Homo sapiens: one gene and its partners. The protein of the gene in region 2 purifies or fractionates together with the protein of the main gene of each other region. This does not show direct contact. Each region holds a gene or a part of one and is shown on either strand. Other genes may lie near its edges.

Evidence for each region.
Region 1: the proteins of PYGL (region 2) and OGFOD1 fractionate together in Homo sapiens (co-fractionation; one large-scale study listed by BioGRID). This does not show direct contact.
Region 3: the proteins of PYGL (region 2) and TRAP1 purify together in Homo sapiens (affinity purification with mass spectrometry, with the first as the bait; one large-scale study listed by BioGRID). This does not show direct contact.
Region 4: the proteins of PYGL (region 2) and PFKP fractionate together in Homo sapiens (co-fractionation; one large-scale study listed by BioGRID). This does not show direct contact.
Region 5: the proteins of PYGL (region 2) and HMCES fractionate together in Homo sapiens (co-fractionation; one large-scale study listed by BioGRID). This does not show direct contact.
Region 6: the proteins of PYGL (region 2) and NEK10 purify together in Homo sapiens (co-immunoprecipitation; one large-scale study listed by IntAct). This does not show direct contact.
Region 7: the proteins of PYGL (region 2) and EIF5B purify together in Homo sapiens (affinity purification with mass spectrometry, with the first as the bait; one large-scale study listed by BioGRID). This does not show direct contact.

What each region holds. Positions count from the first base shown.
Region 1 is NC_000016.10:56,472,054-56,475,553, reverse strand, and holds part of OGFOD1 (prolyl 3-hydroxylase OGFOD1), read right to left. Parts: intron 727-3,500; coding exon 604-726; intron 48-603; coding exon 1-47.
Region 2 is NC_000014.9:50,923,605-50,928,239, forward strand, and holds part of PYGL (glycogen phosphorylase, liver form), read right to left. Parts: intron 497-4,635; coding exon 365-496; intron 1-364. UniProt on the Homo sapiens protein: Allosteric enzyme that catalyzes the rate-limiting step in glycogen catabolism, the phosphorolytic cleavage of glycogen to produce glucose-1-phosphate, and plays a central role in maintaining cellular and organismal glucose homeostasis.
Region 3 is NC_000016.10:3,661,606-3,666,240, reverse strand, and holds part of TRAP1 (heat shock protein 75 kDa, mitochondrial isoform 1 precursor), read left to right. Parts: intron 1-122; coding exon 123-270; intron 271-779; exon of another isoform or gene 780-1,781; coding exon 1,782-1,967; exon of another isoform or gene 1,968-2,678; coding exon 2,679-2,817; exon of another isoform or gene 2,818-3,273; coding exon 3,274-3,359; exon of another isoform or gene 3,360-3,595; intron 3,596-4,108; coding exon 4,109-4,254; intron 4,255-4,635.
Region 4 is NC_000010.11:3,108,298-3,112,932, forward strand, and holds part of PFKP (ATP-dependent 6-phosphofructokinase, platelet type), read left to right. Parts: intron 1-403; coding exon 404-496; intron 497-1,057; coding exon 1,058-1,183; intron 1,184-3,924; coding exon 3,925-3,989; intron 3,990-4,635. UniProt on the Homo sapiens protein: Catalyzes the phosphorylation of D-fructose 6-phosphate to fructose 1,6-bisphosphate by ATP, the first committing step of glycolysis.
Region 5 is NC_000003.12:129,291,688-129,296,322, reverse strand, and holds part of HMCES (abasic site processing protein HMCES), read right to left. Parts: intron 1-4,635.
Region 6 is NC_000003.12:27,110,274-27,114,908, reverse strand, and holds part of NEK10 (serine/threonine-protein kinase Nek10), read left to right. Parts: intron 1-610; coding exon of another isoform or gene 611-629; exon of another isoform or gene 630-683; intron 684-3,588; coding exon 3,589-3,637; 3' UTR 3,638-4,635. UniProt on the Homo sapiens protein: Plays a role in the cellular response to UV irradiation. Mediates G2/M cell cycle arrest, MEK autoactivation and ERK1/2-signaling pathway activation in response to UV irradiation.
Region 7 is NC_000002.12:99,395,946-99,399,799, reverse strand, and holds part of EIF5B (eukaryotic translation initiation factor 5B), read right to left. Parts: intron 3,041-3,854; coding exon 2,902-3,040; intron 1,053-2,901; coding exon 891-1,052; intron 494-890; coding exon 386-493; 3' UTR 1-385. UniProt on the Homo sapiens protein: Plays a role in translation initiation.

The DNA of each region.
Region 1 (3,500 bases), on a different chromosome or scaffold from region 2:
ACCTTTGGCAATGTAAGAAGTAAAACCGCCATATTCTGGCTCCCAGCCTTACAAGAGAAAAACAAACAGCATTCAGAAAGCTCCTATTGAAAGAGTCGCACCATCTACTTAAATCACTGATCCCATGCTGCTTAACAGTGGGGGATCTGGGAGTTCAGCAGTAACTGGTTCTATGACTTATGAGCTTGAACTTATCATCTAGTTTATCATGGATTGCCTTCCCCTAAATGCCTAATTTCCTGAGACAGCTGAACTGAAATGCAGTCTTATTTCAATAAACTTTGAATATGAAAATTAAGAGAGAATTAAATGCTAAATATTCCCAGAAGGGCAATTACATAAAATCTATAGATCTGGGAGCACACTTAGGGGAAAATTATGGTGTGGTCCATCTCCCCATTTCCTAGTCACAGATATAAATCCTATTTTGAGCTGGGAGACTGGAATTCATGACCCGTAAAATCCCTTTGACTTTGAGATCCCATGATGTGAGATTCTGAACTAGGCAAATTACTTATGAATTGGTTCAGCTGGAAAGGGTCCCTCAGAAGAGACTGCCCCTCCTACGGGGAATAATCCACCGCTTGCTTTCCTCCCTCTTACCTTCACAGCCACAGTACAGAATTAAGTCTAGGGCAAATTCAGCCTTGCTATGGTCATGAATTAAAGTGTAGTGACCGGTCTTCCAATGCCTCAGTTCCCCTTGGCACATGGGAACACTTGATTCTAAGGAAAAAAAAAAAGATGAGAAACTTTAAAAAATAACCTTGATAGAACTGTTGGATTGCAAGGGAATCATAATTAGGAATGATACAGCAACACAGGGAAACCATTCCCACAAACCTTTGATTGAAGTGCTATTCTACCAATCCAGCCTTATAAAAGATTGTTAGGAATTACCAGCTCTATTTTGGGGTAAAAAAGTTGAATTTTGGGCCGGGCATGGTGGCTCATGCCTGTAATCCCAACACTTTGGGAGGCTGAGGTGGGCAGATCACCTGAGGTCGGGAGTTCAAGACCAGCCTGACCAACATGGAGAAACCCCATCTCTACTACAAATACAAAATTAGCCAGGCGTGGTAGTGCATGCCTGTAATCCAGCTACCCGGGAGGCTTAAGGCAGGAGAGTTGCTTGAGCCCGGGTGGCAGAGGTTGTGGTAAGCCGAGATTGTGCCATTACACTCCAGCCTGGGCAACAAGAGTGAAACTCCATCTCAAAAAAAAAAAAAAAAAAAAGTTGAATTTTGATTTCTCTCTATAATAATAAATTTCAGATGGAAAAGAAGTCTAGTTGCAAAAAAATAAAAAATACGACATGAATATTATTTTATCTAACCTTAAGAGATTTCTCAGCATGTTATTACCTAAAGTAGAAACGAGGAAAGGCAAAGATAGACCTGATTACTAAAATATTTTATAAAATTTAAACCATGCTGAACAAAATTAAAAAATGAACTATTACAATCTGTTAAACAGAAGGTTAGTACTCCTCTGAGGCAGGCAGATCACCTGAGGTCAGGAGTTCAAGACCAGCCTGGCCAATATGGCAAAACCCCGTTTCTACTAAAAATACGAAAATATTAGCTGAGCATGGTGGCGTGTGCCTGTAATCCCAGCTACTTAGGAGGCTGAGGCATGAGAATCGCTTGAACCTGGGAGGCAGAGGTTGCAGTGAGCTGAGATCACACCACTGTACTCCAGCCTGGGTGACAGAGCGAGAGTCCACCTCAAAAAAAAAAAGAAGGTTAATACTCCTATATGTAACTTTTTAAAATTAACTAATAAAATGACAAAAAGCCCAAAGGAAAAATACACTGAGGTAATGACAGGCAACTCATGAAAAAAAAAAATCAAGTAACCAATAGGGAAAAATATACAACCACGCACCATTAGTCAATGATAGGCGAATGCCATTTCCACCTAAAGAATAAGCAAGTTGGAAAAGAAAATATAACAGTTTGCTAGGAAGAATGAAAACATCATCATGTACAATGCTGGTGGGAGTGCAGACTGATACAAGTTTTGGGGAGGCAATTTGGCAACTGCCTTAAAATTTTGAGCAGTCTTTGATGTATCACCTGTACTTCTGAGAAGCATTCTGAAGACACAATGGATGTGTCGTTTATTATGACAGTGAAGAACTGGAAAAAATCTAAATGCTCAACACAGGACTGGTTAAGGTCATCTGATCCAATAGATTGCAAGCATTAAAAAGTATACTAGAGAACGGTGTTTTTCAAAACTTAATTGTGGCATACATTCTTGAAATAAAAGCTTCTAGAAATGCAATGTTGGAAAGCAGATACATGTAAAACTGCTTTGGTGGCCAGGCGTGGTGGCTCACTCCTGTAATCCCAGCACTTTGGGAGGCCAGGGTGGGCGGATCATGAGGTCAAGAGATGGAGACCATCCTGGCTAACACGGTGAAACCCCGTCTCTACTAAAAATACAAAACGTTAGCCGGGCGTGGTGGCATGCGCCTGTAGTCCCAGCTACTCGGGAGGCTGAGGCAGGAGAATCGCTTGAACCCGGAAGACGGAGGTAGCAGTGAGCCGAGATCATGCCACTGCACTTCAGCCTGGCAACAGAGCGAGACTCTGTCTCCAAACCAAACCAAACCAAACCAAAACAAAAAAAGCAAAACTGCTTTGGTGGAAGGTTTCCTAAGTGAGGAGGGTGTGCAAACCTGTTCTATTGTTATAAAGGATGTAAAAGGATCAGAAAGAGGTTTATGAAATATTAAGTGGAAAAAATACAGAACAATATATATGGTATAATCTCATTAAAAATAGATGTGTAAAAATATACCCCCCATATGTGTATACATGTATATGTCTACATAGCAAAAAAACAGTGGAAGGATATATTCCAAATGCTAATATGGCCACTTGTAGATTATTATTTTCCTTTTTCTTGTTTTCTAAACATTCTGAAATTGACGTATTTTTATTTTTTAAAATCATCTTCAAGTTATCAGGTCTGTAATGTTATCTCACTAGATGTGCCCTAGCTATGCCAATGTTTAGCACTGCTATCATATGCCCAGCAATTTGATAGCTTTTGCCAAGCTTTATAGCTTTTCTTCAAGATGGTAAACTTCGTAAACAGTGACTTTTCTCTTTCACTTTTGTATTCCCTACTCTGCTTTCACCCAAGGCCCCCTGTATACAGTAGGTGCTCAACAATGGAATAAAGCATCTTTTGGCTGCCCATATAGATTTTATCCTAAGTTGCAGGTTCCCGTAAAAATGAAACCAAAAAAGGAATAGAACTGGACAAGTTTTGGCCAGGTGTGATTGGTCACGCTTGTAATCACTGCACTTTGGGAGGACAAGGTAGGAGGATTACTTGAGCCTAGGGGTTTGAGACCAGCCTGGGCAACATGGCAAGATCCCATCTTTACAAAAAAAAAAAAATCAAGAAAATTAGTTGGGTGTGGTGGCATATGCCTGTGATCCCAGCTACTTGGGATACTGAGGCAGAAGGATCGCTCGAGCCTA
Region 2 (4,635 bases):
TTATTCAATTTTGCTATCAACACCTTAATATAAAACCAAAGAGGTAAGCATGCTGGTTACTATAGAACTGACAATTTTCTGGCAAAAAAAAAAAAAAAAAAAAAAGAACTGACAATTTTCTGACAAAGCTGGTTGCAAAATGACCCTTATAAAAGTCACTCCTCTCTTGGCCTCAGCTCCTTTGTCTCCAAAATGACTGGGCTGCGCTAAGAGAAGTAACAGATTTATTTACAAAAATATATTCTATTATTCAAAACACGACATGCCCTATACTCAATATCACCACTATATGCTACATAGTCAATGTATTATCTACTGTACTAAATACTATACAAAACGCTGGCTATACGAGCACTCTGAATACTTGAGTGTCAATCCACTTGGTCCCGGTGTTGGTGTGTTCTACTTTTCCATAGAAGTGCACAGGCAGCATGAATTCTGGGCGGGACTTCTCCCAAGGGTTTCCATATCTGAGCCAATCATCTGCTTCTTCTACCTGCAAAAGGATACAGTATTGCTTAGAATTTATTTGTCAGGAAATATGAACCTAGCACTTCAATTATATTATATTAAATTTAAAACATCTTTAACTGAAACAACTTATGAATACTGAGTACTGTTTTGTAACTTTTTTACAGCCTACATCAACAATAATACTCGCTAATACAGCTCTAAATATTTTATATGTATTACTGCATTTAATCCTCTTTTAAAGATGAGGAATTGTAACTGCTCAAGGTCAAATAGTAAACGGTAGAGATAAGATCTCAAGGTCAAACAGTAAACGATAGAGATAAGATCTGCCCTTAGGTCTCTGTGTTCCAGAGCCTCTGTCTTAACGTCTGTGAATCCAATTGTCCAGCTTCAGCTAAAGACAGACGCCTTACAGGGATGTTTATCGTTGGATACCTGGGCCTGTTGAGTCCTACACAAAGGGTTCAGTCAAGATTCTTGTGGCTAGAATATACAGAATCAGTTAGAAAATGCTACTTACAGAACACTCTTTTAATCAAGCTTATTGGTATAGGTACAGAACATTATTGCATTATGTAGTCTTTGCTTATCTCAATCCTTATGTAATTTTGATTTGATAATGAACTATAGATTATAGTTTATTTTGAAAATAACATATTCCAAGAGGTAATGAACTTATTTTATTGACAATTTCAATATTTTCCTAGGTATTTATGTCAATTTATAACAAAATATTTCTTATATACGATTTTAAACTATGGTTTCTATTTAGGATATCCTGGACATCAAATACATTTTCATTTGCAACAAACAAACAAACACATCAAAATAAGAACACCACCACCACCAAACACATTGGAGGGGGATGTATTTTTAAATTATTGAAACCTTTAAAATATGACACATACAGTTGTGGATTGCTTAACGACAGGGATACATTCTGAAAAATGTGTTCTTAAGCAACGTTGTCATTGTGCAAACATCACAGAGTGCACTTACACAAACCCAGATGGTGCTGCCTACTACACACCTGAGCTATATGGTATGGCCTCCTGCTCCTAGACTACAAACCTGTACAGCACGTTACTGTGCTGAATACTATAGGTAATGGTAACACGATGGTGTTTGTATATCTAAACATAGAAATAGTACAGTAAAAATTCAGTATAAAACATAAGAAATGGTACACCCACAGGGGGCAGCTCCATTACCATCTTATGGGACCACTATTGCATATGTGTTGTATTGTTGACTGAAATGTCATTATGTGGTGCATGACTATACATTAAAAAATGGAATTGTGTTCTGGCCAGAAGGGGGTAAACAAAGCAGCTTTGTCAATGAGATAATCTCCAATATGGTTATTTTACCTATTTGATACCTCATATTCACCTCTTAGAAAACTCAGCTTTAGTTTTAGAAGATACTGCTTAAGAATTACAACACAATGTTGGACATCTCATGATCACCTAAACATGAGTGTAATGCCTGTCTCAGGAACAGTGTGAAGAGACAAAAATAAACACAGCCACTATCTTTTGAGAATTTAGACTAACCATTATTGTCAACAGCCAGAGAAATGAATACAAGTTCACTTATTCAAATTTTGATAGTGTTGTTTATCAAGAAAGCCAGTAAGCTTCCCACTAATATTAACTACCAGTGTAATGATGAATGGAAATGGGACTCATAGCAACAACATCTTTAGTTGGAAGAGCTAGGAGTTAGAGAGCCACTGGAGGAAGGAGGAGGTATCAGATGCAAGATGAACCCTAGGGAAGGCTGGAGAGAGATCTGAGCTCGTCAGAAAGTCACATCTTCTTAAAATGCAGATTCTCAGTAGGTCTGGGGAGGGGCCTGAAATTCTGCATTCCTAATAAGCTCCCAGGGGCTCCTGATTCTACTGGTCCCTGAACCCCACAAAGAGCAGCCAAGAGCTACAAGGCAATGCAAAGTCAATAACTGTAATCTGTAATTCAGAATTAAAAACTAAACTTCCGCTATCCCAGTCATAAGAGAACAAAGATAAAATTTTTTTGAGGCAGGAAGGTCACTTGATCCCAGGAGTTTGAGAGCAGCCTGGGCAACATAGTGAGAACCTATCTCTAAAAAAAATTTAAAAATTAGCCGAGTGTGGTGGTGTGCACCTGTAGTCCCAGCTACTCAGGAAGCTGAGGTGGGAGGATTGCTTGAGCCCGGGAGGTCAGGGCTACAGTGAGCTGTGATCATGCCACTGTACTCCACCCTGGGTGACAGAGTGAGACTCCATCTCAAAAAATAAAGTAAAATAAAATAAAATAAAATTTTAATAAAGAAACAGTTGAAGTTTGCCAGTTGTCAAGAAGCTTGTTAAAGAGTCCATTAACTTGGCCAGGCGTGGTGGCAACGCCTGTAATCCCAGCACTTTGGGAGGCCGAGGTGGGCTGATCATGAGGTCAGGAGTTTGAGACCAGCCTGGCCAACATGGTGAAACCCCGTCTCTACTAAAAATATGAAAATTAGCCGGGCATGGTGGCGGGCACCTGTAATCCCAGCTACTCAGGAGGCTGAGGCAAAAGAATCACTTGAACCTGGGAGGCAGAGGTTGCAGAGAGCAGAGATTGTGCCACTGCACTCCAGCCTGGGAGACAGAGTGAGACTCTGTCTCAAAAAAAAAAAAAAAAAAAAAAAAAAAAGAAAAAGTCCATTAACTTGGGTTCATAACTAGAAATGCTATAATAAATAAAATGATGACATCAACAAAGGATCAAAACATCTTGACTTACAAAATACTTTATGCTGCACTTAGGCAAGGGCCAATTTTGGGTTTTAAAATACTGAGCAATGTGAACACTGCTTCCTGTAACAGGAAAGAACCATAGGCCTGTTTGCCTCATTTCAGCATGCAGGGCTGTTGTAAAACCCATCTGAAGGTATTGTATGAAATAGGAAGACGATGAGGCAGAAACAGTTTTCCTCTGAAAACTCATGACCATGGGAGAACTGATGACATATTTTTTTGCTGAGAAATGCAGCAGGATGATATACTGTCCTGCCCCCAAGAAGCCTGAAATGCTCAGATAAGAGAGGATGGGCACTGAACTTCCTCCTGTGGGCTCAGTCCCTGACTCCTGTGGAAGTCAGAGGTTGCATTTACTCTTTTTATTTTTATTTTCATTTTCTTTGAGACACAGTTTTGCTCTGTCGCCCAGGCTGGAGTCCAGTGGCACAATCTTGGCTCACTGCAACATATGCCTCCCAGATTCAAGTGATTCTCCTGCCTCAGCCTCCCAAGTACCTGGGATTACAGGTGCCCGCCACCACACACAACTAATTTTTGTATTTTTAGTAGAGACGGGGTTTCACCATGTTGACCAGGCTGATCTTGAACTCCTGACCTCAAGTGATCTGCCTGCCTCGGCCTCCTAAAGTGCTGGGATTACAGGCGTGAGCCACCACGATAAGCCACATTTGCTCTTTTGAGGGTACACTCTTACATGAGATTCTTAATGCCATCAAATGTTGGTTGAATTTTTTTCCTGCCAAGTAAATGATTGGTTTTAGCTTCATGGGGCTAACAACTCGTAGGAGAGTTTATTTGCTTGCTGTTCTTTATTGTGAATCTCCCGCTGATTCAATAAAGAATTGGTGAATAATTCTATCAATTTTATAAGGCTTGTTTTTAAGGTAGATTGAGAAACAAGCGTTTCATAACAAGTTGACCTGAGTAGATCTGAGGAGGAGAGAACTATCCCTTGCTGCCTCCACTAAATCTACAGAAGCTGCAAGATGGTGATAAACCTTCTCTCTACCTTGCTTTCTTCCAATGAATTGACAAATTGATCTGTAAATTTAGGTTTCCATGTAGCCAGTGATCCCCAAATGCACTAACATGCCAATCATATGAAGGGGTAGGGGTGGGGGGCCAAGGTGGGAGAACTTTCATCTACATCCAAGTGAGCTGTCAGAGCTGTTTCATCCCAGAGGCTGCACGGGGCTGAAGAAAGCAAGCGTGGATCTGTGGAGTAAAAGAGCCAACCTGGGTGCAGGTGGCAGCTGGACTAGGCATTTCTTTAGAGGAATGACTCAATGGAATCTGTCCCAGCCAGCAGGGATGGAGAGGTCAGCCCAGGGGACTCTGTTGACTGAATTCTAAGAAATGCTCTTCTCTGCACCTGTGGG
Region 3 (4,635 bases), on a different chromosome or scaffold from region 2:
ACGGTACCTTGTTGTTTTCACTTCTTTGATTCTTAGCGGGGCTGAACATTTTTTCGTACCCTCTGGCCATTTGTATTTCATAGAGGCTGCTTGTATGTATTAAATGCATTTCTTTTCTGTAGGAAACTCCGGGACGTTTTACAGCAGAGGCTGATCAAATTCTTCATTGACCAGAGTAAAAAAGATGCTGAGAAGTATGCAAAGTTTTTTGAAGATTACGGCCTGTTCATGCGGGAGGGCATTGTGACCGCCACCGAGCAGGAGGTCAAGGTATAGGAGCTGTGTTCCAGGCCTTTTTCTGGGCCACCTTGTCCCTGGGGCTGCTGAGGAAGCTGGTGGAGGTGTCCCCTGATGTGGCGACGGTGCAGCTGGGTACCCTGGCTGCTGCTGCTGCTGCCACCAGGGTCAGGAAATGGAAGGCCAGGCTTCTGGGCCTCTGGCACCTTCCAGGCACATCCTTACCCTCCCACCAGTGCTGTGCTGTGCTCTGAAGGGCTCAGCCTCACTGCTGTGTGAAGGTGCAGCCCAGGGAGTGGCAGGAAGAGGGCGTGCACACACTGTCTCCCCTCAGAGGATGTTGGGGGCTGGGGAGCCACAGACAGGTGGGACAAGCCAAGGACTCCGATCCCGTGGGTGGGGAAGTGGGTGGTCTCAGTGTCTGTTGAGGGACTATTCATCATGTACTGGATATCAGTCTCCAAATACTATGCTACAGGGGCCAGTCGTTCAGTTAATCCAATAGTGGATGGCTGAAAAACGAAACATTTGTTCCATAAACATTTTTTGTCCATTTTTTATTGAGATACAACTTACATAGCATCAGATTCACAGAATTCACCTTTTAACACGTAAAATTCAGTGGCATTTAGTGCATTCACAGTGTGGTGTGGCTGCCTCCACTGTAACCCCAGAACATTTCATCCCAGGAGCCCATCCCGTGCTGGTGTCCCTTCTCCCCAGCAGCAGGAGGAGGGTGACCACGTGTGTGGGGTCCCAAGGAGGCCGTGTTCTGGTTGTTTGCCGACTTCGGCAGCTTCTGACACAGGCCTCTTCATTCTCCTTTATCTTCATTTGAGTTAACAGCACACAGGTAAGAGTCAGAGACATTTCTAGGTCTTTGTAGGTGTGCACGTGTGACATGTCTTATCAATGCAGACCCACCATGTGTGCAGGGGTGGCCTGGGCCCTGCTGGTTGGGTGTCCAGCTCCTTGCTTTTCCCTCTTTCTGTTTTCCCCCTGCGTCCTTCCAGCTGCAGCTCCCATGAGCTCTAGAGGTCACAGCTGCGTTCAGCTGATGGGGAGGAGGGCAAACCCCTCCCCTAAGGGCCCTTCTCCAAATCCCACTGAAACCCACTGGGCAAAGCCAGTCTCTGCCATAGCCAGCTGTGAGGAGGGCCGGGAACCGTGGACTTCACCCGTGTCCGTGTGCCCACCAGAGACTGACTCTGTCACTGAGGGCAGAGGGAAGACGCTGGGTCCAGGCCGGGCTCTGCTGTTGGGTGGGGTCCCCTCCCAGGGCGTGGTGCGCGTAGCTCCCTGGAGAGCCCCTGGGCCACCTGGGGCAGGAGGTGCTTCCTAAGCCCCCAGAGCTCCCAAAAGGGGCCTGATGGGCAGAGCAAGGCCTGCTCTCGGACAACCCCCGAGTCCACTACCGTCCCTCGGGTCAGGGCCAGCCTGGAGTGCCAGGAGGCCATGGGCATCGGAGGGTTTGCGCCCAGTTAGTTGGGCAACATTGAGCCCATGGGCCTGGAATAAGTGGTGACCTGCCCCGTCCCTTCTAGGAGGACATAGCAAAGCTGCTGCGCTACGAGTCCTCGGCGCTGCCCTCCGGGCAGCTAACCAGCCTCTCAGAATACGCCAGCCGCATGCGGGCCGGCACCCGCAACATCTACTACCTGTGCGCCCCCAACCGTCACCTGGCAGAGCACTCACCCTACTATGAGGCCATGAAGAAGAAAGACACAGAGGTGGGTGAGCGGTGGGTGGGGCGGGCTCCGGGGGCTGCAACCTGGGGAGGGTCTTGACCTTCTCAGCTCTGTGCTGGGTGAACCTGCCCAAGACTCCGGGCAGGGCTGCACAGTGGGTCAGGGTCACGGGCACAGAGGCCGGACCGACTGTGACGGCTGTTTCCCACTTGGAGGTCACATGTGGTTTTTTTTGTTTGTTTTTTGTTTTTTTGAGATGGAGTCTTGCTCTCTCGCCCAGGCTAGAGTGCAGTGGTGCGATCTCGGCTCACTGCAACTTCCGCCTCCTGGGTTCAGGTCATTCTCCTGCCTCAGCCTCCTGAGTAGCTGGGACTACAGGTGCACACCACCACACCCAGCAAATTTTTGTATTTTTAATAGAGACGGCATTTCACCATGTTGGTCTCGAACTCCTGACCTCATGATCTGCCTGCTTTGGCCTCCCAAAGTGCTGGGATTACAGGCGTGAGCCACTGCACTCAGCCACATGTGGATTTCTTTATGCGTGGAGTGCTTCTGCCTTGAAGGCAGTCAGAGCCTTCCTTAGACCCAGGTGTCGTAGTAACTGTCATGCAGGCCTAGGAACCCCAACTGCCCCGGTGTTCCCCAGTGTGGCCCGCTTGGCTCCCCCAGCCCTCCTGCCGCCCTCATCCTTTCTTCTGTGGTGGCTGGAGGCCCCCGGGGTCTGATGGAGCTGCTCTTGGCCACCTGCAGGTTCTCTTCTGCTTTGAGCAGTTTGATGAGCTCACCCTGCTGCACCTTCGTGAGTTTGACAAGAAGAAGCTGATCTCTGTGGAGACGGACATAGTCGTGGATCACTACAAGGAGGAGAAGTTTGAGGACAGGTCCCCAGGTCGGCATCCCCTGCTCTCTAGGCGTGGGGCTGGTTTCCACTCCCCGCACGCCTCTCCTGCCCCGCAGCGAGGGCTTCCTTTGGGTTTTCGTCAGTTGACCTGGGCTCAGCCACCCCCGAGAAGAGCCTTGTGGGAGCACCCTGGTGACTGGAGGAAGGTGCCTCCTGGTTTAGATATCAGGGGTCTGTCCAGTGCTCCTGCCACGGTGGCTTCTGGAGCTGGCCCAGCTTCTTGAGAGGCTGTGTATTTTTTTAAAGCCCTAACCAAGTTGTATGGGCCTCAGGCAACCTGAAGCATCCTTTGAGGTTTTACTTTTAGATGAAAAGCATCTTGCTAGCTTGTGTCTCCATCCTGGTGGGAGAGGAGGTGGGAGCTGGAAGCATGCTGCGTGGCCCCCATGGAAGCCGGGGAGTTGGGATGCAGGCCTGAGCTCCCTGTCGCCTGCTCTTCCGCAGCCGCCGAGTGCCTATCAGAGAAGGAGACGGAGGAGCTCATGGCCTGGATGAGAAATGTGCTGGGGTCGCGTGTCACCAACGTGAAGGTGAGGCTTTCCCGGGGATGGACCACCACTTGGCCGCAGTGTCCCTAACAGGCTGGCCAGCTGGTGGCTCCCAGTACCTGGCCCGTTGGGTGTCCTTCCAGCAGCAGCAGAAGCCCTTGGTGTCAGGTGGAGACCCTGTGGGTCCCTGCTCGGCACGTGTTGCTCGGGAGTGCCGCTGAGGCAGGAAGGCCGTGTCTTTCTCCCAGCCCTGCTCCAGAGCAGGTGTGAACTGAGAACTGAAAAACCAGCATCCTGAGTGGGAGCTGCAATGGCTGAGGACGTGGGGGTTCCAAACAAGGGACATGCTACCCCAGCCCTCAGGAGCTCACATGCTCACTTGGGTGCTTAGTCGGGGGTTTTGGGTGGGCTTCAGAGAGCTAAGACTCCCCCCACCAACCTGTCTAGCTCAGAGTGAGAAATGAGCGTCCCATGCATGGTCACTTGGAGGAAGGGGCCTCATGCAGGGTGGGCTGGCATGGAGCAGAGGACGATGGATTCGGGCAGCTCCTGGAGGCAGCAGCGGGGCACCAGGGTGGTGGAGCCCCTCGGGCACAGTATCTTTGCGTGGGGCATCAGCTCAGGGCCCACAAGTTAGTGGGTAATGGGGAGGGAGCAGCGCTGGTCCAGGGGAGTCCTTGAGACCCCGCCTGCTACCTCGTGGTCTGGGTGACCTTCACCCCTGGTAAGATCCTGCCAGCCCTCTCACATTGGGAACCTCTATCACCCTCAACCCCGGGCTTTGCTCACAGGTGACCCTCCGACTGGACACCCACCCTGCCATGGTCACCGTGCTGGAGATGGGGGCTGCCCGCCACTTCCTGCGCATGCAGCAGCTGGCCAAGACCCAGGAGGAGCGCGCACAGCTCCTGCAGCCCACGCTGGAGATCAACCCCAGGTGAGGCCACGCTCCTGGCTCTTCCAGCCTGTGGGATTCCCCAGAATCCTGTGTGTGGTGTTCTTTTGTTGTGGAATGTGACACAGAAGAAAAGTGCGTGAGGCCTGTGGACATGTGGGTAACTATAAGGAGCTGTATGCAGTTTAGGCTGCACCCATGTGAAATGGAACCTGGCCAGCCCCTTACCATCCCCAGGTGTCACCTGGGAGGTTAGCCACATCCCAGCCTGTGACCATGTCCTCGTTTTGCTTTATGGCTTTGCCACCTGTGCGTGTCCTGGACATGCTCAGTTTTGCCTGTTTTGAGCTTTGTACGTGGATCTTGGTGTTTGCTGAAGTCTCACGTTGCTCACTTGGCATGAGGGTTGCCCATGCAGAGGGG
Region 4 (4,635 bases), on a different chromosome or scaffold from region 2:
GGCTGGCTTGTGCTGTTCAAATCACAGCTGAACAAATTAAAGCTGGTTCAAGGAAGATGTTTACATTTTTTGTAAAATATAAGTAATAGTTTAAATGCAAGCTACTGAAACGTTACTTTTTTATTTTTCTTTTTTAAAGCAACGAACATATTACTTGTATTCATTTTCTAGGTGCGAGCCAAGATCTTGTCTGGTAACAACAGTATTATTTTTAAAACCAATTTTCAGCTGCCTGTTATATACACTAAACGTTCTGCTAGGAAACAAAATTTAGAAATAACTTTTCCCATTTAGATCTGAAGAAAGAGCGAAAAACCTTTTCCAGTGCCCAGTACCTCCTTCCAGATCTGGGCTGCTGTGTCCGCATCACAGTTCCGCATCCTAACGAGATGTTTCCTTGCAGCTTGTCGTCACGCAGCTGGGCTATGACACACGTGTGACCATCCTCGGGCACGTGCAGAGAGGAGGGACCCCTTCGGCATTCGACAGGATCTTGGTGAGTTGGGAAGGGTTGGGCATCTTCACAAGGTCTCTAGGAGGAAGCGTTTCTGGAGAGGCACAGGCACCAGCCGGCCACAGAGGCTGGCAAGGTGCTCCCCGAGAGATGCCCGCGGCCCGGCCCTCATCTTAACGATCCTTGAGACCTTTGGTGTAGACCAGTCTCTAGGCCTGCAGCCATTCAGATGCGGGGAGAGCTCCCTAATGTGGGAAGGCAGTGCTTGGTGTTGGCACGACGTGGACCCCAGAGGGCACAATCCCAGGGCAGAAAGGCTGTGTTTCTAGTGAGTTTCTGGAAACTGACTCAGGGCAGCAGGAATCCCAAGTACAAACCCTCAGTTCTTAACACTCCTGCTCTCCATGTGCCCTGACCTCCTCTCTGTTCCCGTCTTGCCAGTTCTAAAGGAGTGGAAATCGCTTTGCTCTAAAGAGTTGGGCTGGAAGCGGGAGGGGCTGTGAGCACCTGACTGAGGTCATTGGACGTCATGGAAAGATAGGAGGTGACAGGGACAGGGCAGGACGGGAGGCTGCCCCTGACCCACATGGACCTGGTTTCCAGGCCAGCCGCATGGGAGTGGAGGCAGTCATCGCCTTGCTAGAGGCCACCCCGGACACCCCAGCTTGCGTCGTGTCACTGAACGGGAACCACGCCGTGCGCCTGCCGCTGATGGAGTGCGTGCAGATGGTGAGTGGGCAGCCCATGGCCAAGGGCAGGGCGGAGACGGCTGGGACAGAAGCTGCTTGTCAGGCCAGCCTGGGCACCTTGGGTGTCTCGTCGGTGCACGATGCATTACACGGCCTTTCTGAGAAGGAGGTGAGCTGCCCGTGGGGAGGGAGAAGGCTTATGTTCTCTCCCACACCTGCAGAGCCTGCGCCGTCTTCGCTCTTTGGTTTTCTAAGTTACCATCCATCTGTGTGGCACATAGTCGTAACCTCCCCTGAGTGGGGGTCTAGAGCATCGGGATCCTCAACAGTCGAGGATCCAGGTGGCCCCAGTGCACCAGGTGCTGCAGAAGGACAGAGTGCAGGGAGGCAGCCGAGAGAGAGAGATCCGTGGACAGACTGCAGGGAGGCGGGCGTGAGAGAGACCCATGGGGCAGAGGGGGCAGGGAGGCAGGGAGGCGGGCGTGAGAGAGATCTACAGGGTGGTATTTTGTAGGGGAAGGTGGGACCTTCCCAAACTTCTCCAGTTTCAGCCATTTCCTGTCCTCCTATCCCCAAGGACATTCAGGTCTGTGATGGGACACAGGGAAAGCTCTGGTCACCCGAAGATACACCCACCCTTCTTGGGCCAGGGAACTGTCTGCCTGCAAATGAACAAAGGGAAAAGCAGTTCCAGCTTTTCAGGCATTGGTTCAGTAGTGGAGGTGGCTGTGGAGTTAGCTGCATTTGAAGTTATTTAATTAATTAATTTATTTATTTAGAGACGGAGTCTCACTGTTGCCCAGGCTAGAGTGCAGTGGCGTGATCTTGGCTCACTGCAAGCTCCGCCTCCTGGGTTCACGCCATTCTCCTGCCTCAGCCTTCCGAGTAGCTGGGACTACAGGTGCCCACCACCACGCCTGGCTAATTTTTTTTTTTTTTTTTTTTTTTTGTATTTTTAGTAGAGGTGGGGTTTCACCGTGTTAGCCAGGATGGTCTGGATCTCCTGACCTTGTGATCCATCCACCTCGGCCTCCCAAAGTGCTGGGATTACAGGCATGAGCCACCACGCCCAGCTGTTGTTTTATTTTTCAGAGTTCATTCATGATTCGTGACTCCTGTTTTGTTGCCTCTTAACACACACAAAGAAGTCGTGAAGCAATCAAGTCAGGGACTTGTTGAAAGTCACCTTGTAAACATAATTTCCAAAAGCCCAAGGGAGAAAATAGTATTTGTGTGTATGTGTGTGAGTGTGTGCGCAGGCTTGTGTCTCTGTGTGTATGTATGTATATGTGTGTGCATGTGTATCTCTGTATATGCATATACATGCAGGTTTATGCATATATTTATGCATGTGTGTGCATGTTTGTGAGGTAGTTTGGGTCTGCATGTATGTGTATGTTTATATGCATGAGTATGCATGTTTGTGGTAGTATGTCTGCATGTATGTGTGTGCATGTTTGTGTGCATGCATGTTTGTACGTGTGTGCATGTTTTTGTGAGGTAGTGTGTGTGCATGTTAGTGTGTGTGCATGTGTGTATATGCATGTGTACATTTGAGTGTGAGGTAGTATGTTTCTGCATGTTAGTGTGTGCATGTATGTTTATATGCATGTGTATATATGTGTGTGAGGTAATGCATCTGCATGTGTGTGCATGTATGCTTATATGCATGTGTGAGCATGTTTGAGATAGTGTGTGCATGTCTGTGTGTGCATGTGTTTATATGGATGTGTGTGTATGTTTGTGAGAGGTAGTATGTGCCTGCATGTTTGTGTGTGTGTGCAGGTATGTTTCTATGCAGATGTGTGCATGTTGGCATGAGTGTGAGGTAGCGTGTGTCTGCATGTTTGTGTGTGCAGGTATGCTTATGTGCATATGTGTGTATGTTGGAGTGTGAGGTAGTGTGTGTCTGCACGTTAGTGTGTGCCTGTGTGCATGTGAGAGGCAGTAGGCTTAAAAGGCTCAGAGCACTGAACGACATGCGGTACGTGTATTTTGAGCCTGTGTCTCATGTCTCTGCTTGTCTAGAGACGACCGTGGTAGGTGTCACTTGCCCTGACCTTGAAACCACCCTTGTGTGGCTTTGTTTTTAAAGCTGAGGGACCACTACTGTGCACCTGCTGTTTGTCAGGCGTCTTCCTGAGGGTCTGACATGCTTGAATAACCTTAGAGATAGCTGGAAGTAGGAGTATTTTTCTCATCTTACAGATGAGGAAATTGAAGTTCAGAGCGAGAAAGAACTTGACCAAGATCCTGACGTTGCCCAGGGCTGCCTGGCGTGCATCAGTCCCAGCCCCGTGTCCCAGGGCCTCCATCCGGGCCCCTCTGCTCCCCCGCCCGCTGTGACCTCGCTCCCATCCCACATCCCCCAGTGAGCTGGTGTGTTCTGTTTTGTTTTTCCCCACCATAATCAAATTGAGAATTCCTTAGAACCATGCCTGAGAGATTTCATTTCCTCTGGCTTTGTTCTCTTGGAGTTAAATCTTCACAGTGTTGTGTCCACAAACAGCAGGTGACACCTTCTCTTTTTCCTCAGAAGCCTCCTGAGCTAAGCAGTCCCAGGGCTCTGACCTCACAGCCGGGCCGTGTGGGGCTGGCTGCCAACCAGCATTAGGACACACTTGGCGGCCGGTCGTCTAGACCATTAACCCTGGGGCTGCTGGCTGCCCGGGTCAGACTGGAGGGGGCTGGTGGGAAGGACCGAGCCAGTCTCTACCTACCCCATCCATGATGCACCAGGTCCTGACACATTCTTTCTTCTTTTCATCATTGTTTTAAAAGACTCAGGATGTGCAGAAGGCGATGGACGAGAGGAGATTTCAAGATGCGGTTCGACTCCGAGGGAGGTGAGGTGCTTTGGAGAAAGCTCTGCCCTGTCAGGAACACACACCCCTCAGGCCCAGCCACTGCAAACGTGCTTAGGGGTTGTGCTTATTCCATGTCACTGTGAAAAATCAGAAAGTCAGGCAGTACTCACAGCACCGCTCTTGCAGTAGCAGGCCCTGGTGACTGGTTAGAGAGAAATCATTTTCTAAATTTGCCATTGGTCCTTTTTGGTAAGGTGATGGTTGTTTAGGAGCTAATGAGATTAAGGCACAAGGTGACTTGTGGCCCTTTAACAACAAACCAAAACAAAAAAAGGAGTCTCCTTCTGTTGCCTAGGCTAAAGTGCAGTGGTGCCATCTCAGCTCCCTGCAATCTCTGCCTCCCATGTTCAAGCAATTCTCATGTCTCAGCCTCCCAAGTAGCTGCGACTACCAGCTCGTACCAGTGCATGTCACCACATCCAGCTAATTTTTGTATTTTTAGTACAGACGGGGTTTCAACATGTTGGCCAGGCTGGTCTCAAATTCCTGACCTCAAATGATTCACCCGCCTCAGCCTCCCAAAGTGCTGGGATTACAGGCTTGAGCCACCGCACGCATGTCTTGCAAGAGAAAGTTATGAAGTGTAGAAGCGTGCCCTTTTCTCTTAGTCCATTTCCACCAGACA
Region 5 (4,635 bases), on a different chromosome or scaffold from region 2:
CTGGGAGGCCAAGGCAGGCAGATCACTTGAGGTCAGGCGTTCAAGACCCACCTGGCCAACCTTATCAAACCCCGTCTCTACTAAAAATACAAAAAAAATTAGCTGGGCATGGTGGTGCATGCCTGTAATCCCAGCTATTTGGGAGGCTGAGGCAGAATTGTTTGAACCTGGGAAGTAGGGGTTGCAGTGAGCCAAGATTGCACCACTGTACTCCAGCTTGGGTGACAGAGCGAGACTTCATCTCAAAAAAAGAAAAAAAACGGTCAGTGAAAAGTATCTAAACTGAAACAGAGAAGAAAAAAAGAAAGAAAAATGGAGAGAATATCCAAGAACGATGGTACAATTAAATCATCTAACACATGTGTCATTAGAATCCCAGAAAGAGAAAATGGGGCAGAAGAAATATTTGAAGAGGAAAAAGCCAAGAAATTTCCATAAATTATGAAAGATATCAAACTGCAGATCCAAGCAGCAAAGAGAATAGGCTAAAACACATACACACAATGTATTCAAACAGCTGCCCTAAGAGAAAATCTTAAAAGCAGGGGTGGAGGGAGGTGGAGGGGAAGGTGGTGAGAGCAGCACACATTTATGCATTACATACAAAAGAAAAAAGACAGTTATACACTAGACTTCTCAAAAAAACTATGAGAGCCAGAGACAATGAAGTGTATTTTTTTAAAGTACTGAAAGAAAACAAAACACCACTGACCCAGAATCTTATATACGGTGAAAAATACCAGACAGTGGTTGCCAGGGGTTAAAGACAGGGAGGTATGGAAAGTGACTACTAATGGGTGTGGTTTTATTTGGGGTTGATAACAGCATTCTGGAATTAGTGATGATGGCTGCACAACATTTTGTGGGGTTTTTTTTGTTTTTTTTTTTGATAGAGTCTCACTGTGTCACCTAGGCTGGAGTGTAGTGGTGTGATCTCGGCTCACTGCAACTTCGACCTCCTAAGCTCAAGTGATCTTCCCACGTCAGACTCCCAAGTAGCTGGGACCACAGGCACGAGCCACCATGCATGGTTAATTTTAGAGCCACTGTGCCTGGCCAAGGTTTTGAATATACTAAAAACCACTGTACATTTTAAAAGGGTGAATTTTATTATATGTGAATTATATATCAATAAAAAGCATGAATTTTTTTTTTTTTTTTTTTGAGATGGAGTCTCACTCTGTCGCCCAGGCTGGAGTGCAGTGGCGCCATCTCGGTTCACTGCAAGCTCTGCCTCCTGGGTTCATGCCATTCTCCTGCCTCAGCCTCCCAAGTAGCTGGGACTACAGGTGCCCGCCACCACGCCCGGCTAATTTTTTGTGTGTTTTTAGTAGAGATGGGGTTTCACCGTGTTAGCCAAGATGGTCTCGATTTCCTGACCTGGTGATCCGCCCACCTCGGCCTCCCGAAGTGCTGGGATTACAGGCATGAGCCACTGTGCCCGGCCCTGATGATTTTTTAAAATAAAGAAATAGATACTTTTTCAGACAAAAAAAAAATCAGAATTTATTACCAGCAGACCCACACTACAAGAAAAATTAAAGTCCTTCAGGCAGAAGGGCTGTAATACCAGAGAGAAAACTGGATCTATACAAATAAGTGAAGATCCATGGAAATGGCTAAAATGAAGGTACGTGTACAAAGACTTTTCTTATTTTTTACCACTCTAAAACATAATTGACCATCTACAGTAAAATAGCAATGTATTGTAAGTTTATAGTATATGTAAAAATAAAATGCATAACAGTAGCCCAAAAGACAGGAGGAACTGGGAGAATACTGTTGTAAGGTATTTTCAATAGTAATGTAGTGTATAAAGACAGAATGTTATTAACTTAAAATGTATGCTGTAAGCTGTAGGGCAACTACTAAAAACATTTATTTATTTATTATTTTTTTTGAGACGGAGTCTCACTCTGTTGCCCAGGCTGGAGCACAGTGGCGCAATCTTGGCTCACTGCAAGCTCCGCCTCCCGGGTTCATACCATTCTCCTGCCTCAGCCTCCCAAGTAGCTGGGACTACAGGCACCCACCACTGCACCAGGCTAATTTTTTTTTTGTATTTTTAGTAGAGACAGGGTTTCTCTACTGTTAGCCACGATGGTCTTGATCTCCTGACCTCATGATCCGCCCGCCTTAGCCTCCCAAAGTGCTGGGATTAGAGTTGTAAGCCACTGCGCCCGGCCTAAAGACATTTTTTGAGAGGCAAAAATAATAAGCCAATAATAGAGATGAAATGCAATTATAAAAGATTATTCCCAAAACAGAAAGATCAGGAGAAAAGGAACAAAGAGTTGATGGAACAAATAGAAAACTAGCAAAACAATGGATTTTAACCCAATCACATCAATAATTACATTAAATTAAATGTTCTAAACACAAATTAAAAGAATGATTGTCAGACTGAATCAAAAAGGAAAATCCAACTATCTGTAGTGTAAAAATTAAGTTCAAGTCCAGGCGCAGTAGCTCATGCCTGTAATCCCAGCACTTAGGGGGTGCTGAGGCAGGCGGATCACCTGAGGTCAGGAGTTAGAGACCAGCCTGGCTAACATGGTGAAACCCTGTCTCTACTAAAAATACAAAAATTAGCCAGACATGGTGGCACGCACCTGTAATCCCGGCTATTCAGGCGGCCGAGGCAGAATTGCTTGAACCCAGGAGGTGGAGGTTGCAGTGAGCTAAGACCACACCATTGCACTCCATCCTGGGCAACAAGAGTGAAACTCTGTCTCAAAAAAAAAAAAAAAAAAAAAAAAAAGAATTAATGTATATTAAGCTAATACACATTAAGTTCCTAGAAAGAGTAACTGACTAGTAGTAAGTGCTTAATATTTGCTATTATAATTGATAGATGTTTTATAAATTAATCTTGTCTTGTACCAAATCATTTGTGTGTTACTAGACTGGCTAGACTGGGAATTTTCTTTTTTAATTTATGTTTTATTTCAATAGGTTTCTGGGGAACAGGTGGTGTCTGGTTACATGAATAAATTCTTTAGTGGTGATTTCTGAGATTTTGGTGCACCCATCACTGATAGGGAATTATCTGAGGGTGAGGCAAACTCTCTTGACTACTGAAACTGCCCCAAAGAGTTAAAAAACAAACAAACAAACAAAAACACCAATGACTAAATTCTTGGGCTTACAGGATAGCACATAAGAAAATAACTTGCTGAAACAGTGAAACTCCCTCCGCTTGTAAGATAACAAAACTGGCTGAATTGGTTGGAACCAATAACTGACTAGAGTATATGCAAAACAAGCTTGCTTATATCACAGCCTGAATTTCCACCACATTTCACACTAACTCCCCCTGAATTTGCACATGAGACCTATATGGAGGCAGGAAGAGATAACTGCACATACCTGAAGACTTTCCAGGCCTCCCCTTTCCTTCCACCAATCACCTACTAATCCCAGAATCCACTCCCTAAACATTTTTTTAATAAAAGTACTCCTTAAAGCCAGCTAGGGAGACAGAGTTGAGCTGGACTCCTGTCTTCTTGTTAGTCGACTTGAAATAAAAAACTTTTCTCGGCCAGGCGCAGTGGCTCACGCCTGTAATCCCAGCACTTTGGGAGGCCGAGGCGGGTGGATCACAAGGTCAGGAGATTGAGACCATTCTGGCTAACACCGCGTCTCTACTAAAAATACAAAAAATTAGCCGGGCCTGGTGGCACACGCCTGTAGTCCCAGCTACTTGGGAGGCTGAGGCAGGAGAATCGCTTGAACCCGAGAGGCAGAGGCTGCAGTGAGCCGAGATCACGCCACTGCACTCCAGCCTGGGCAACAGAGAGAGACTCTGTCTCAAAAAAAAAAAAAGAAGAAAAAAAAAAACTTTTCTCTGTTACCCAGGCTGGAGTGCAGTGGTGCAATCTCGGCTCACTGCACCCTCCACTCCCCACCCCAGGCTCAAGCTATCATTCCACCTCAGCCTGCCAAGTAGCTGGGACCAGCTACTCAGTATCATGGTATTGGCTTCTAGCACATTGGGTAGCAAGTCCCTTTTACTCGGTAACACTATTTCCAGTCCCCAAAATGAGATGACAGGTGAACAAACAATTCCCAATTTTAACAAGCAAACTGCTAAGAACTCAGGTGCTTTAGCAGTGTCAGACTAAATAATCTAATTAAAAATAAAACATGATGTTGGCATGTCAGATTTGTTTTCAATCTCCTGATAATGTTTTAACATGAACAGTTCAAATTATGTCTTACAGTGAAAGGGTTTTTGTTTCATTTTTGAGATGGGGTCTCACTCTGTCACTCAGGCTGGAGTACAGTAGCACGACCTCAGCTCACTGCAACCTCCACCTCCTGGGCTCAAGTCATCTTCCCACCTCAGCCTCCCAAGTAGCTGGGACCACGCCCAGCTAATTTTTTGTATTTTTGGTAGAGATGGGTTTTCGCCATGTTGCCCAGATTGGTCTTGAACTCCTGAGCTCAAGTAATCCACCTGCTCTGGCCTCCCAAAGTGCTGGGATTACAGGCATGAGCAACCGTGCCTGGCCTGAACCACTGCGCCCAGCCACAGTGAAAGTTTTATGAAGGAAATGTTAAACGTAGAGTTGTAATATGACCTAGCAATTCCACTCCTAGGCATCTATCCAAGAGAGATGAAAACAAATCCAT
Region 6 (4,635 bases), on a different chromosome or scaffold from region 2:
ACACAAGAGTTGTCTGTTGACTTACCTAAGGAGCCTACTCATAGCTGAGTCATCAAATTGGTTGCAAGTATCCACACACACACTCTATCTGGGCCACAGTTGTTTTAGGAGGCATAGTCCTTTGGAGTATATTCTCTCAAAGTGGTCTTTTATGCCTGGAGGGACTGCCTTCCTTTTCAATTATTGAAGCTATTTTGTGACCACTATTTAAATTATTCCAGAAGTCTTCACCAAAGATGACTAGTAACAACGGGAAGAGAAAGAGGGCTCAAGAACATCCTGTTAAGGTCATTATATAGAAATTAGATTCTTTTCTAAGGTTAGTTCAGTCTCCAGTGTTTCTTCTCCTTTTTCTTCTACTTCTCCCATTTCAAGGAGTTTTTCTTATGAGTCACAAGTAAAATTATTCAACTACTTGCTCTTTTGACTTGATAACAGTTTCAAAATACTACCTTTATAAATTTAGATCTGTTGTGATTTGTAACTGCAGAGGAACAATGAGTAATTCTCATTTTCTAAAGATATACCGTCAATAGAAATTACCATCTCCACAACTACTCTCCTCCCACCATCCCTGGAGAGATTTTTGAATTTTCATTTTCTATTCAAGGGCTGAGTATATGCATTAGGAAAAGAAAATGGTAACAGGAACAGAAAGAGCAGCAAGGACCTCTGACCAAGTTTGGATATTTCTCATTTCTGGGCTTCCGGGAAAAAGGGAGCTAGGACTGAGTTGGAAGGAAGAAAGCTGTGTAAAGAAAGTTAAAGAAGGTCATAAAGGCTTGGCCAGCCTCGTAGCTCTTCCCAAAGCAGGCTCTATTTTTGATCATTTGCATGGTTGTATGATAAATTACATTTTACATACATAAGCATACTATCATGGATAGTATGAATGTTTCTGTTTTTAACTGTGAGCCTCATTATTTCAAGTGCCCTTGGCTTGTACTGGGGAAAAGATGACTCTTGTCATTTTATCTGCATTTTCTCAGAGACTTGGGATCATGGGCAAGGAATGTCTTCATATTTTTTGCAGAAAATCATTTAAATATCAAGAAAAACTAAGTGTGCAAGGAACTTAAGGAAGCTCTTACAAGAACTTTTATTTTCCCTTTATTAAAAAATATTTGTCTTATTTTGGAATTTATCATTATTCTTTTTCAATTCTACTTTCATTAGGTTTTAAACCGATCTAGTTCCAAAGACATATGGCTTTATTAAAAGACATTGCAAATTTTCTTATTATGATAAACAGATAATAAGATGCCTTATAACAAAGGCAAAAAATTATTCAGTTATATTTGTAATTGTGAATCTATTATGAAGGTATGATGAAACAGTCAAGTTTAAGCAATATAAGTTGGGTATTGCATTAAATTTTCTTAAAGTGCTCCAAATTAAAATGAATCACATTTAAAAATCCATATATCCATGGTATTCCCTTTTTGGCTTCTTTTTTTTTTTTTTTTTTTTTTTGAGATGGAATCTCGTTATGTTGCTCAGGCCAGGCTGAAGTGCAATGGTGCGATCTTGGCTCACTACAAACTCCACCTCCTGGGTTCAAGCGATTCTCCTGCCTCAGCCTCCCGAGTTGCTGGGATTATAGGCGCCCACCACCACACCTGGCTAATTTTTGTATTTTTAGTAGAAACGGGGTTTCTTCATGTTGGCCAGGCTGATCTTGACCTGGCCTCAGGTGATCCACCTGCCTTGGCCTCCCAAAGTGCTGGGATTACAGGCATGATCCACCACACCCGACCCCCTTTTGGCTTCTAATAGCAATGATAGAACATATCTTGGGAGAAAAACTCTCCAGAATTTGTTTGTAAAAATAACCCTTGTTTGTGCCTAAAGCCACTCTTTGTTTACTAGTATTCCAAAATAATTTCCAAGAAATAAGTCAGGCTTCAATTAGAAGCACCTACTAATCCACAAACTGTGAATAACACATAACTCCAAGTACAAATCAGATTAGCTGGTACTGTCATGCTTTTTTCCACAAAGGATGGAGGGTGCTAAATGTCACAGCATATGTAGAGGTATTTAGAATCAGTATTTAGAATTAGTAGACTGCATTTTTCCCCAATAGGTTTCATAGAATGGGCAATATTATCAAAGATGTCAATAGATAGTCTCTGAAAAATAAAGTTTCATGGCCACATATATTTGGGAAACTCAGAATGTACAATTTTTTATATTTGGAGAATGTTGACACCTATTACTATATTAAAGACTCTGAGATGTACTATAAGAAAGAAATCTGTTGACCTTGTTTGTTGACCTCAGTGTTTTCCTCACTCTTTACATGGAATACAATTGAGGAAAGCTGTTTTAGCTATGTGGTTGGAAATGAGGAACACCGTTTTCACTCCTTCACCAGGGTCTACCCAGATCTCTGTTGTTCTCATTGACATGGTCATCATTGTCATCATCGTCATTGCAAAATTTGTTCTTAAATGAATTAAGCACCGTGCTGAGAAAGTTACATATATAATTTCGGTGTTATTCAAGTTTACAATTTAAGACTATCAGTTTGAATAGTACACACATCATCTAGCCAGCCAGTCACTAAAGGATTAATTCAAGATAAGGTACATTTTTGGTTTAAATTATAGGGTTTATATTTAGTTAAGGAAGAGAATAGAGAGGTGCCATTTTCAGACTGAAAGTCTCAGGATAAAGCCATTATCTATCTGTTAGCTATCTTTGAGGAAGATTTCTGGAACTGTTTAAATCATGAGGAGACTGCTTGGACAGTTAGGAAGAATGTCTCAGGCATAAAATGCTGCATTAGGAAAAGAAAATGGTAACAGGAACAGAAAGAGCAGCAAGGACCTCTGACCAAGGTTGGGTATTTCTCATTTCTGGGCTTCTGGGAAAAAGGGAGCTAGGACTGAGTTGGAAGGAAGAAAGCTGTGTAAAGAAAGTTAAAGAAGGTCAAAAAGGCTTGGCCAGCCTCATAGCTCTTCCCAAAGCAGGCTCTATTTTTGATCATTTGCATGGTTGTATGATAAATTACGTTTTATATACATAAGCATTTAGCTTGCTTACCAGAAGGATGCAACTTAATATGCCTTAATTTTATCATTGTTGTTTGTGAGGATAAAATCATTTGAGTCATGAATAAACAGATAATGAGCATATAATCTTTATGAATATACTTATGTATTACATTAATATTTTATTTTTAATAATAAAATGTGTTGAGAAATAACAGTATACAAGATAACAAATCTACATTGAATCAACTTGAATTGTTTTATTTCCCCAATTGACTGATAAGCGTGTAAATTAGTTATTTTAACCTACACAGGTATTCAAGTATACAAGCTATTTTGAATGAATATTTGTTTTTCTACTACAAAGTGTTATCAGTTCCTATTGAGTTCATAATTTGAGAAAGGCCTTGTTAGCACCAGACTTCAGCCAAAGGCAGCTTTTTAAAAATGTCCCCATCCTAACAAAAATAATCGTCTTTTTATTTACTGTGATTTATTTACTTATATGCCTGAGCCCCAGTTTTTGAAATTGAATGTATGAACTAAAATATTTGTAACTATAGAGAATTCTTTCCACTTCTGAATCTTATAGGTATCATTCCTATCCATGGGGGACCAAGAATCACCCAACCAAAAGATGAAAATGCTGCATTTTGAGTGGACTTGATTTTCTCAGTGAAGTTCAAGTTCTGGACTTCAGCCGCTATTGCAAGATGCCCAAGGATTGGGTGCTGCTAGAGGGTGTGGAAAAGACCAAGATGCCATGGGGCCTGCAGGACTTCTTTCTGGGGGTCCTGTGCTGGAGTATATGACAGCTGCGGTACTTGAGGGCTTCATTGCCAGAACACATTATATACAGGATGTCAGAGCTACCAGTGTGCTGCTGGGAGAAAATGCTGCAAAATTCATCTTTTGGAGGGTGGGGGGAAAACCCAAAAACAACAACAAAAAAACTCTCTTACAGAATTTTCCTTAACATTAAAAAAAACTTGTCATATTTTTCAAAGGCACATTTGATACTCAGAATTGCTAAAAGTATATTTAAAGACATCTAGCCTTCCATATGTAAAAAATATTTTAGATAAAGACAGTTACAGGACTCAGAATAATATATTGGGTGATTCACTGTATCCTCCATTTTTACATTTAAAGAAATTCAAAATACGTGATTAAATTTTTTTTTTTTTAATGGATGGGTTGGTTCTCGCTTAACCACTTGGGTGCTAGTGGTCTTGAACTGTGATACAGTGTAGACAGTATTTGTAACCTTGCACAGCCTCTGGGGGTAACTGTCAAACTGTCAGATTTAACTTAGACTAATAGAATATATTGCTGTACAGTGTGTGTATATGTTTATATATGAGGGCGGAAGGAGAGAGGTTTTGATTAGACTAATGCTTTGCTGCTAATCAAACTTATAGTATTTTTAGAGCACTTTGAAGAGTTTATAGAATCTATGAAAAAGATGCAATATTCCTCATCCTAAATCCCTCCTTATTACAATTACCTAAATTGTTTATGAATTGTTTAGGATTTTGAAATGAAAATAAGTTAAATCCCTTTTTTACTCATTGAGGCAGCTCAGTGGAAGTGAAATCAGAATGCCAAACTGTGTATCATCCTTTATGCCGGGAGAATT
Region 7 (3,854 bases), on a different chromosome or scaffold from region 2:
TCACAAAATCTGCAGAAGCTTGGTTAATCAAATACTGCAGTACTGATTTAATCAGTATAAAATCGAAAGAGCTTTAGATCTGTAATAAAAATCCAAATTTGGGGAAGGGCAAACTTTAAAACAGCAGCCAAGTAGAGAAGGGTTGGGGAAGGGAGAGGTGAGTGAACAGGCACATTGGAACTGTGGGGACATGTAACTGACCACTGTCAAACCAGTGTAAGTTTCTTGGTTTCTCATGGAAAACATTTTATACACCTATTTTTCTTCCTTCCATACTTAAGTCCATCAGTGTCCAAATACGTCTGTTCCATTTTTTGTCTGATTTTTGTTGGGATATTACAACACAGTATTGCATTTACTCCAGTTCCTGCTCCATGTGAAAAAATTAGATGATTTCAAATACTTTCTTCAGCTCCACAATAAGCTGCCAGTCACTCTTCTGCATTTCATCTCTGAACCAGTCTTTGAGTGCATCAATGGACTGCCGGCTGATCTGCAATGCCCGAGGCACAAACAGGGTAAACAGAACATAACAAACGTGCCAAAGAAAGCTGTGGCCCCAGATGCCCGCTCTCACTGTACTAAAAAGCTTAAGCAGAAATAAAAAACAGGGCTTGCCTGCCTAAGGGAGTAGAATTCCAAAATCACATCTGGTTTGCATGTCAGGCACGAGGGGACCTAAAAGTCCTAGCTTTCTCTGTTGGTGCTGCTTTCCTGATAGAGCAACTTCCTCAACAGACAAGGCCCAGCTAGAGGTCAAGCCCTAATGGGGGATCCAGTCCCATCAGATTCTACAATCAAACTGAAGCCCAAGGAGCTACAGGTACAGGTGACCCAAGAAGAGTGATTCCCTGTTGCTTAAAGTGTGCCACTTTTGCTGAAATACTTACCTTACTAACAAGAATATCTGTAGCTTCAAAATGTCTTCCAAACATTTTGGGTGACTCACCAGGGATAGGTTCTATTTTTACACAAACTTCTTGTCCTTTTTTTGCAACATCCACTTGTTTATGGTTTATTTCAATACTTGTTACTATTCCGATGTCAACAAACTATAAAATAAGAACAAATTAAAATGCATGCAGAAGAATTCATGCCAATCACAGGCGCCATGGCTGGATAGCTGAAGTAAGAACTAGAGCAAAAGCCTGTTTTAAAAGTCATGGCAGTGCGATCCTTTCATCACTCACGGTGTAACATTTTGGTAAACTAGGCTGGCACCACCAACACCCTATTCCCTTCATGATGGTTGTAAGAATGACAGGAGATAATGTGCTTTGCAAAACATTCCAAGTGCCCTGTTGACCCAATGTCATTTCCTATTTTTGCTCTACCATTTCACGTGACAGGTGCCGTAATAGGAGGGATCAGCAGGCACAAAGGGTCTGAGTCAGGAATGAGCTTGAAGTGGCTGATGGGAATGAAGTCAGAGTGAGGACCAATCCTGAAATTTTAAGAATGATGGCCTGTGAGCAGATGAGTGATGTGATCTCAGAGTTTGGGGCAAAAAACCCTGACTCCTTTGTGGAGAAAAAGATTCAGGAGAGTAAGAGTGAAAACAGGGAGAGCTCTGGTTGGTTTAGGAGGCCAAAGCCACATAGAAAGTAACACAAATAAATGTCCAGGCTTAGTCCACTGAAATGGTAGAAAAGCAATGACAACTTCTAAGTGCCATTGCCCATTACAAGAACCAGGTTTGGGCCAGGGAAAGTACTAGATGAGGCTGGAACATCTCAACCAGAAAGGAAGATGATGCTCAGACTGCTGTGTGTCAAGGATACAGGAGCCAGTTGAGCTCCTACTGACCACAATAGAAAATCTGAGTATCAAAAGAATAAAGGTAATGGATTATATTAAAAAAAAAAAAACCCACTGAGTCTATGACTCAATAAAAAGGTCAGTGGGAAGAGGTTCTTTGTAAGAAATGGGGGGACAGGTATATCCACAATTTTGCAACCATCTACGTAATAGTTGACTTAGGCAACGCTTGCCAGTGGGTACTAAAGGCACTGGGATAAAGGCTGTTGAGAAACAGGATATCCATTAGGAACTCCAGGTACCAGACAGATTACAGAGTAATTATAAAGGGGCAAGTTTCTAATGGAGATGGTTGGCGTCTAGCACTTTCCCCAGGAAATCAGAGCATCAGCAGCAGTCAGACAGGCTGGGTCATGCAAGAGGCAGGCACACAGGGAAACTGCATGAGTGTCTTTCCAATAATTCTAACCTGTGTCTAGTTGGGAGGGAGAGAAACAGATAAATCCAAATGGAGGAGGGATTTGCAAAACAACAGGGACACTTCAAAAAGAATGGAGGACTGTTCTTGACTGAGGCTCAGCCACAAAACAAGCCCCAGTGCAATGCAGCTTGCAGGGCACTGGGCCAGATTGGTGGGGAGAGTTACCAAAACATCTTTGGAATAACTGGTGAAATAATGTTGAGGGCTGCAAATTATAGGATATTGTTGAAATATTATTAATTTTTCTTAGGTATGCTGACAGAAAGGGAAGGTAAACATGAGTGTTCATTATACTAGTTTTTAAACTTTTCCACAGGCTTGAAACCTTTCAAAATAAAATAAAAGGCAATAATGTAAAGTGCCTTGGAGCCCCAATTAACTGAAGCACTGAGATCAGCACTGAGTCAACACTGACTATGGAGCACTGATATTTACCAATACTGAAGCACAACAGAAGGTGACAGGCTCTGCTTGTTTTAAAGTTACCACATTTTCTTCCTACTGAGGTAAAAACACTGAAACATTTGTTAAGAAGGTGGAGACCACACTAAATACACAGCACAGTACTGTGAACTACAGGCACAAAGCTGTGTTGGTACGACTCTTGGACACTCATTTAGTGCTTTAAGAAATGACCCACAGAATGTACAACTAGAACTTACATTTTTGCTTGGGACACACATGGGTGTCCCCTGTTTCACCTGACCTGCTTCCACCGTCACCCCCATCACTATCGGATCTCGAGAATTAAAAATGTACTGAGGGAGGATTTTTATCTTGCAGGGAAATACTGCTATGTGCCTGAAAGGAAAAAAGAAAAGAATTTTAAGCTTACAGAATCACTTAAACATAAAAAGAAAAACTGCAGCTGAACATCAGGCTTCTCCCATTAGAGGAAAGCAGCTTTCCCCAGCGGCCACAGGAGAGGGGCAGGCAGGGTGCTGCAGCCCAGGGCCACCCCATGCCCAGAGCGCTTCTTCCTTGTTCTTAACCTCCTCCTCCCCATTCTGTTGCTTCCCAAGTCTTTGCTTTCTTCTCTTTTAAAGCCCTACCTCCAAAAGAAGCTGCATCACAGGAGCATTCTGTTCCTAGTCTAAAACACTGAGCTTGGCTGCTGAAGATGTCAGCCACAGTCTGGGGCTTAGAACCTAGGCAGTACCTGGTGACAGGCAGGTCTTCGTTAGGCACATATGTAGGCTACTGGGGGATCACATAGGCATCAGACCGTATTATCACCCTCCTTTTCTCCACCACGTTCCCAAACCATTGATCCAAAAGGCCACTACATAACTACCCTGCTTATTGAGCACACGCTTAAAATGCTTTAAAAGTTTCCAGCAGTCTTGTTAAGTAGAATTCTTCTCACTTCAGGTTTCATGATCTAAAGTGAGCATATACCAGTCTAAATCCTAATATTTACTAGTAAGCTCCACTTAAAAATGTATCCCAAACTACGCCATCACTCCTATCATCACTGTGGTCTGAATCACCTAGACCTCTTGCTTGGACTGTGGGAGCCTCCTGACAGGCTCTTGCCACTGACTTCCTAACAACCCAAGGTCCACATAACAACCCAATTAACCAGTCTGATTGTGAACACACAGCCTTGGCAATG